Regions from separate parts of the Homo sapiens genome. Here all the other regions are linked to region 1. Evidence: fine-mapped expression QTL. A gene starts in region 1. Each other region holds a variant in brackets. All regions are shown on one strand. Distances are from middle to middle.

The links. PIP is the estimated chance that this variant, and not a neighbour inherited with it, causes the effect.
Region 2: its variant is the best candidate, but not a certain one, in a credible set for the expression of LINC00900 in macrophages (Alasoo 2018, PIP 0.84).
Region 3: its variant is the best candidate, but not a certain one, in a credible set for the expression of LINC00900 in monocytes (Quach 2016, PIP 0.81).

The regions. Positions count from the first base shown.
Region 1 is chr11:115,758,895-115,761,649 of GRCh38, reverse strand. LINC00900 (long intergenic non-protein coding RNA 900) reads left to right here and starts at 1,450. Exons shown (of 3, transcript NR_034148.1): 1 at 1,450-1,620. The region is part of intron 2 of LINC02698 (long intergenic non-protein coding RNA 2698); the gene reads right to left. RefSeq lists an enhancer at 1,856-2,390.
Region 2 is chr11:115,708,289-115,711,043 of GRCh38, reverse strand. The region is part of intron 2 of LINC02698 (long intergenic non-protein coding RNA 2698); the gene reads right to left. Among named protein-coding and RNA genes, the nearest start is that of LINC02698, 50 kb to the right of the region's middle. The variant AT/T (reference allele first, on the strand shown) is at 1,380.
Region 3 is chr11:115,715,719-115,718,473 of GRCh38, reverse strand. The region is part of intron 2 of LINC02698 (long intergenic non-protein coding RNA 2698); the gene reads right to left. Among named protein-coding and RNA genes, the nearest start is that of LINC00900, 43 kb to the left of the region's middle. The variant C/T (reference allele first, on the strand shown) is at 1,724.

The DNA.
Region 1 (2,755 bases):
ACATACTGGATCCTGAATCTGTGGGCAGACATCTGAGTACAGCACTTCCCCTACCAGTAAAAGGGAGGTGCTAGTGCCCTCCTAGCCCAATTAGGGCAGGCTCCGTAGCTGGGTGGGGCTGAGCTTGTAGGAAAAGGCCTACTAGGCAGTGCCCTGCAGGGCTGGGCAAGCCAGGACTGATGGCTGGGCCAGGTGAGAAAGATTTCCTGCTGTATTTGCAGACTGAATATGTGTCTGGGGCTAGGGGCTGAGCTGCTGCCAGCACCATCTGACCTCAAGGATCCCCCTAGTCAACAAGCAGCAAGAACAGGAGACTCCAGAGGCTCCCTCAGCTTTGGAGATAGCTCTGCAAACAAAACTCAGTTTTTAGGGGTTAATCCTCAGCCCCAGGAGGAGGCAGTGGGCCTCCTCTGAAGGGCAGAGTCAGCAAGTGGGCTGAGACTAAAGGAAAGGCCCAAGACTGCAGGCCTGAGATTAGTTTGGCAGCAGCTCCAAAGAGCAGCCCTTGAATCGCAGGGATTGTCTGAGCCCTCAAAAGCACTGGCTGCCTCCCACCAGCCTAGCTAATGGGGCTGAGCTGCTGGGGCCATGACCTCTGTCTACCCGGCTGATGGTCTGCTGCTCTGAATCTCACTCCCCCAGCACCCAGCAGGACCAAGGGCTCTGTCTAGCTTATGTGCATCGTGCCCTTGCATGTTTTCAGCACCTACTATGCGCGCAGCATCACACCTCCCCATCCACCTGCCTCCTGTTACTCTCACCAGCACGCTCAGTCAACCCTTGGGCTAATTAGTGATTAGGTCTACAGTAAGCATGCATGGTGGGGTGCAGAGAGTGGGGTGGCCAGCGGGTGATGAGTGAGGGGAGAAGAGAACAGGAGATAGGAGGTCATGGTCTGACCTTCTTCCAAAGCCCGGAATCCCTGAGTCTGTCTCTGGCAGCTGTGAAACAGAGGGAGCATGGGATCTGAACCGTGCCGCCATCTGGGAGGTCACACACACTCACAGCCAAACCCCCGGAAGGAAACTCGGGCTGAAATACACCGTTTGCTGAAGAGCAGGGCTGGGCACTGGTTTCTCTGCGTTCTGAATTTCTAGAAAGGGTAGGGTCTCCGTTGCCAGGCGGCGTCTGCCACCTCTTCCCACCGCGGCCCCTCCAGCCCTCCACCCCTTCCCCTGGGAGACCCCCTGTGAGGACCCTCAGCAAACTTCTGCAAAACCTGACGGGCCCTGGGTGCAGGGTGGTGTGGACGCAGATCTTTCAGGCCGAGGGGGGGGCGGCGGGAGGGTGGGCGTGGAGGTGCGAGAGGCGCGCAGCCTCCGCCTGCCCAGCTGTCTCTGCGGACCCCGCCGAGGGAGGGAGAGAAGCGCTAGGAAAAGGAAGAGGAGAAGGAGCTCGAGCGGGAGGCAAGCGAGAGGCTCTTTTGCTCCTCCCAAAGCAGGGGGCGGCTCCACTGTGCTTCTGATGACCCGGCCGCCGCCGCCGCCCTGCAACCGCTCCCCGGGACCCCTCAACGCTGACACTGATGACCCGCGGCGGGGGCGCTGGGCGCGGGGTGCGCAGGCCACTGGCCGCGGGCTCTCGGGCCCGCTCCTGCCGCCGGCTTCTGCTGCTTCCGCGGTAATGACACTCGGCGGAGCGGCCGCCATCTCTTCTGGTACTTTCACTGGAGGAGGGAAGGGTGGGGAGAGCCCTCTGTCCACCCCTGCCCTGCCCTGGCGCTGGTCCGCCACTGCCCGCTGCTCTCGCGCTGGTCCGCAGCTCAGCCGAGCAGCTCCCTTCATCTGGCCTCCCAGACCCTCACTCAGCCGCGAGAGGAGGAGCTCCGGCGACCTCGGGCCTTCCCTTAGGGTCTGCGCGGCCCTTACCCCAAACCCGCCCAAGGTAGAGGCGTGAAGGGGCCGGCGGCGATGCAGAGGCGGGAAGCGCATTGGGGAGGCGAGGCTGGAGAAGGGGACGCAGGGAGGCGGGGGGTGGACCCCCAGCATACTCCAGGAGCCGGCAGGAGCCAAACCCCAGCCCTCCACACAGGTATTCCTGCGGACCACGAGGTGCCACCCGTCCCTGGTCGCAGAAAAGACGAAGGGAAGGCCCAGCTTCCCTACCTCTACCTCCCATGCCGGGCGCCCAGCCTGCTCAACTGAACCCCAAGCCGCAGGTTAACCCTGCTCCAGCTTCTCCCCTTGGCTATGGGCAAACTCCTTTTCTCTTTCCCATTGAGAACCACCGCTCAAATTCGGAGGGCTTTCCTCCTTGGTGCTCAGAGCTCCCAAGATGGGTGATTCTCTGCCAGGGGTCCTTAGCTACCCACTTTGGACAAGGATGGACAGATGTTTTCTCAAGCTTGCCTAAAGCACAGCTTCTAAACAGATGAGCCCTCCCCACGTTCCCCGCAGATTGTCTGGCCTTCGAGGAAATAAAGATGACCGTAGCCAAGCTGCCCTGCTCCGCACAAAGGACCCTGGGCGCCCCATCCTTAACTCCCCTGCCTTATGCTTGAGATTAGCATATCCACCCAGCAACTCCTCTGCTCCAGACTTAACTTGACCACTGCAGTCCACACCGACTCTCCTATCCACCAGAACTGTGCACTTAAAATCTGCTGCACACAATCCCATACTTGCTTGAGTCTGGCTTTGTTCTCCAATAGTTTCAAATGCCTGTTTGACTCCCCCCGCCACCCCCACAGAGATAAGGTCATCACAAGCAGTAACTACTGCTTTGCTTGTTTTGATTCCCACAGAGCCGAGCATAG
Region 2 (2,755 bases), 51 kb after region 1:
ACATTCTCTGCCTGGGCGTGTGCATCAATCTGCGGCTCAACCATCCTCCCAAGGGAGCACGCTGGAGGGGTTCCTGGAATTCCCATCCCCCAGATGTTTGAGCCACACAACCCTCGCCACTTCCTCAGCCCACCAAGGGGTCCTGTGTCTGATCACCAGTCCATCTTCATCCCCTATGTACCCCCTCCCCACCATTGCCCCCTGCACCCATCCTAGCCATTCAAGTAACAATTTCTTCCAACACTAGCCCTCCTGAGCACGCACTCATAGGAAAGCCCACCCCCCTCCGACCCCATCTTCTCCTTGTCCCTCTGCAACCAGGTCACCCCTGCTGCCCTCAGCCTCTGGGCAGAGGGGAAGATTAGATTGCACATGAATAAGCAATATTCACTTGGCGCTGACAGCCTAGAGTAAATCCCTTGAGCTGTTGTACAGGAGCAGTACAATATTTCCCATCTCCTCTTCCCTCCATCGCCTCCCCCCATCTCCTATTTCACTTAAGGGCCTTTTTTTTTTTTTTTTTTTTTTTTTTACTGGGATGTACTTGCACGTGGGTGACTATATTAGAACAACACCATCAACACACAGCATTTACAGCAAACAGATCCCTGGGAGCAGTCACCTGATTAACAATGAGGAAAGATACTCGAGGAGTGTGTTTCCTATTTTGCCTTCCCTTCTACTGGGAGGAGGAAAGAGGTCTTTTGCTTCCCACATAAGCTCCAGGCCCTGCTGGGTCACTAAGCCCACCTGTGGAAGGAAAACCCTCCCAGGGGCTTCGAAGAGCCTGCCTTTCAGAAAGATCTGGAGAAGTGAGGTACCCCTCAAGAAGGGAAGGTGACCGCCACTTTTACCTAGCTCAGGGCGGATACTCAGAAACGCTGGGCAAGTAAAATCCCGCCCCACTACCTAGCAGCTGTGTTCCCTTAGGTGAGGCACTTCATCACGCCCCTGCCTTACTTTCCTCACCTGCTAAATGGGAATTAATGCCCTTGAGTAAGATGCTGGTCACAAATGTTTAGAACCGTGCCTGACACATGCAGTCAATACTCATGAACTGTTTTTGTTCTCCTTTCATCTGCCACCTCCACTCCCCATACCAGGCCAGATTCCAACAGTTACGCCAGGAACAGCAAAAAGGGACGTTTTATTTATTTTGTTGTCTTTGACAAAGACGTGCACCCGACCCCTCTCAATGGTTCTTCCTCAGGCCTGGGAAATGCCCATTAAACTTATTTGTCTCTAGTGCATGATAAGTAAGTGATCAATCAAGAGAAGAAGGGGGCAGGAAAGAAAGGGGAAAATGAAAAGAGGAAAGAGGGGAGGAGGGGGCGAGAAAGAGAGAGGACGAAAAGTCAGGAAGGAGAGAAAAAAAAAAA[AT/T]GAGGCGAAACCGTGGAAGAGATTACCACAAAATCAGCCTGTTCAAAACAAAACTGATCCTACATCTCCTCCCCCGCCCCCACCCCACCCCGCCCAGCCCCAGCATGTCTGCCCGTGACTTCCCTGTTTCTATCAGTGGTGTTACCATTTTCCGTTGTCTGAGGCTTAAAACCTCAGGGTCATCTTCACCTCTTCCCCATTTCTTGTTCCCCTTATTCATTCACTGACTCGTCATAGTAACTCTTCATCATCTTTCTCAGGTACTTCTTTTTTTTTCATTTTCTGGCCACCCTCACTGTTGTTCAGGGCCTCATCATCTCCCATCCCCATGCATTTGGTCTTCCTGCTTCTAATCTGTGTCCCTACCACCCACTTTGCTCGATGCATCCAGACGAATCTTCTCAAAGCGCCATTCTCGTCATACGGTTTTCCGTTTCGAAAATCAACAGTGCTTTCCCTCTCCTATGAGCCCCTCACACCATCCCAGCCTCTTTCTCCACCTCGCCTCTGCACAGACCCTCTCCTCCAGTCTGACTTCTCTTCTCTTTGTTCAGGACACAGAAAGTGCATTTCCATCATGATGAATTTTGGGTAGATGCTCAACCTGCACCGTCTGACATAGTAGCCACAAGCCACAGGCGGCTACTGAGCACTTGAAATGTGCCTAGCACTACTGAGAAAGTGAAATTTTAATTTTATTTAATTTAAATTAAAAATTGAAAGCAGTGGCCGGGCACGGTGGCTCACGCCTGTAATCCCAGCACTTTGGGAGGTGGAGGCGGGAGGATCACAAGGTCAGGAGATAGATACCATCCTGGCTAACACGGTGAAACCCCGTCTCTACTAAAAAATACAAAAAAAATTAGCTGGGCGTGGTGGCGGGTGCCTGTAGTCCCAGCTACTCGGGAGGCTGAGGCAGAAGAATGGCGTGAACCCAGGAGGCGGAGCTTGCAGTGAGCTGAGATCGTGCCACTGCACACCAGCCTGGGTGACAGAGCGAGACTGTCTCAAAAAAAAAAAAAAAAAAAATTGAAAGCGGTGTAAACTATTTTTGTATTCAACACAGCTTTATTGTTTTGATAGAACCACATTTCACTTTAACCATCACATCCCATAAAATGTTATTGCTATGCTATAGTACATGTGTTGGGGAACATGTGTCATTTCTAGTATTAAAAACACATCACTGGCAATATCAGTATCAATGAATTGATTCTGTTTGAATGATTTTTTTCTATGCACTGAAGTACCATTGTAATGTGATTATTTATGTAGACAGCCTGTGTTACAGGGATACCTGTTTCTTTTAATTTTTTAATATGCCCACTAGACTATGTAAAATGTAAATGAGCCTGCATTGTAGTGCTAGTGGATC
Region 3 (2,755 bases), 43 kb after region 1:
AGCATTGATTAGCTCTATCTGGTTTCCTAATGGAGTAAACACAGGGCCCCTTGAATATCGACTGGAATTTAACAAATATACCCCTTACAATACCAAAATCGGCCACAGGACAAGGTGTTTACACGCACAGGCCACTTCTGCCTGAACTCCCAGCTGGGATGCCTTGCGACTTCCCCTTGGGCAGCTGCTGCAGCCCAGCCGCTCTGAAAAGAACTCATGAATCAGTGGGACTGTTTATAGTTTTTCCTTTTTAATTTTGAGGCAGGAGTGATTAATTTGAGCCTCGTTGAGGCAAGGGACAAATAAGTGCTGATAATGGCAAGACCTAAGAAGGGTTGAGTTCCTGCCAGGCCTGGGCCTCCCAGAGTGTCTCTGAACTGGTTGGGCCCACCTGCAGGCTTCTTCCCACACCCATCCCAAGGACCCCTTTGAGCAGAGACCTCACAACCCTGCCTGGCCAATGCATGGAGCTGGGACTGTGTCCTTCATCCCACCCTCCACCTAAACTTGAATTTCCGCTGCTGCGAGTCACCAAGGTCCTCTCTACCTGCCCCTCTTCCCATTGCCTCTGCATTCAATCCTTGGGCTGTCCTGGGCCCATCATCCAGCCTCTCGTAGCACAGGCCTGCTCTGCCTCTCAGCTGCTTGTTCCAGGCATAGCCTCCTGAACTCAGGTCCGCTCTCCTAAGAAGACTGCAGCCGAGTTGAGGGGGGCTGAAGGCGAGGGGTCAGTCAGGTGACCCAGGGTGATCCCTGCTTGGGGCTCAACTGCTTTTAATCCGCCCCCCCAGGGAAATTCCAGGTTAGGCTTTGGGCATTTGCTCTGACCTCCCCAGCTTTCTGAAACCAATCTTTTTTTTTTTTTTTTTTTTTTTTTTATGCCTTGGAGTTGTTGAGGTGTATGTGTATGTTTACCTCTCAGAATAGCAATAAAATAAACCAGGGGAGAAAAACGAAAGTCCCAGTAGCAACGGATTGGTTAGACCTCTGGCTTGACTCATTAATGAAGTACAGCTGGTCTGGCAGAAAGAGCTCCTGCTCTCTTTTGGGAACCAGCCCCTTACGTCCATCCTTTCCAAGCAAGACCTCCCTCCCAGGGCCTCCCCATCTCATCTGGAGCAGGAGCAAGATCCGGGGCCAAGCCGCTCAGCGTTCCAGAGGGCACTAAGGTACCGGCAGCCTCCTTCTGAATAGAGGTACAGCCTGGAGGATGAGGGAGGGGTGGGGACACCAACCTCTCAGCCTGTACGTGCCCCAGCAGGGGACCCCGGCCCTGCATGGGTTCCATGTCTCCTGGCTCCCAAGCAATAATCCACCCCCATGGCTTCCTAAGGAGCCGCACAATGGCTTTATTGAGCGGAGCTATAAATTTCAGCAAGGCCAACCCTGGGAGTAGGCAATTACCTTCCGAGGAGGCTCCCTCCGGACTGACTGCCTCCCAGAACAAGAGGGTCTTTCATAACCACTCAGTGCCGGCACGGGCTGAGGACGGCCCATGCACTGGCGGGTGCTGAGCATGCCCCGTGCCCCCCCATCTCATCATCCCCTACTCCCGCCGACCCTCAGACTACAGCATCAGGAAGGCAGCATGATCGAGCGCAAACACTGAGCTTTGAAGGAGACTGTTCGGATGGCTGCTTCTTTGTTTCCCCCAAGTTTTGGCCTCAGCCCAAAATCGAGTTGAGGGAAGGATGGAGAAGAATAAATAACTATATCTTGCAGG[C/T]CTTTTTAAAGTTACGACACACCAGGAGACGGGGAGACGGGGATGGGGGAGGGGAGGAGGGAAAGACCGGAGGGAGGAAGGACCTTTTCTTTCTTTACTAGGGGGAAATTGCTACATTTTCTAATAACGACTAACTTGAAAACAGCTGAACCTTGAAACTTCAAACTTCAATCAAAGTCATTCTCAGAGAAGAGTAGGTGGTTTCCAAAGGCTAGGAAATTTTTTTAAAAAAGAACAATTGGTCTGGAATTAATCAAGATATTAATATCAGAAAAGGAAGCATCGGATACAGGCTGTATCCAGGTCACTCAGCTGTGAAAAGCCCAGAGCCTCGGGCCAGGGTCTGTCCCCAGAGGACCTGGCCTCTCTCCTTCCCCTTAGAAAGGCTCCTACCTTAGTGACAAGGCCTTGAATGGGCAGAGGGTAGACTGGTGTTCAAGACTCTCCTCCCCGCAACCTAGCCACCCTCGCCTCTTCTCCGAAGTGGCAGGCCAGCAGCATGGGCGGGGATGCCTGTCCCCAGGGGCAGGGACCCAGGAGCTGGCATTGACTGACAGCTCCAACCTACAAAGGGGTTTGTTTGATGGGAAACCAACGCTTGGGCTCCCCATGGCTGTCAAGCCACTCCCCAACTCTCCACTCATTTAAACTAAAAACCCAAGTATATTTATTCCCTAGTAGACCTGATACACTCCAGTACTCCTGCCAACTTGCTTTGCAACATCGTACACAGCAGATCAATGTGTGCAATTTAGAACAGAGAAATGAAGACTTCAGTGAAGAGGAGGGGTGGGATGGGGGCTGGCAAAGGGGGGCCTTGGCTCCTGCTCACTGCTCCCCATTCTCTCCTAAAATGCTTGCTTTCCCCTAGCAGCCCATGGTGCCGATCTTTGCACCTTTAAAAGAGAAGAAGGTCTTTTAGCCATGGACACAAAAGAATAACTCTTCCAACCTTAGCCAGGCAAGTAACTAGCACCTATTTTTCCATGTGCCTCACGTACAGAACATGACCATGGCCATAAGTTCACATAA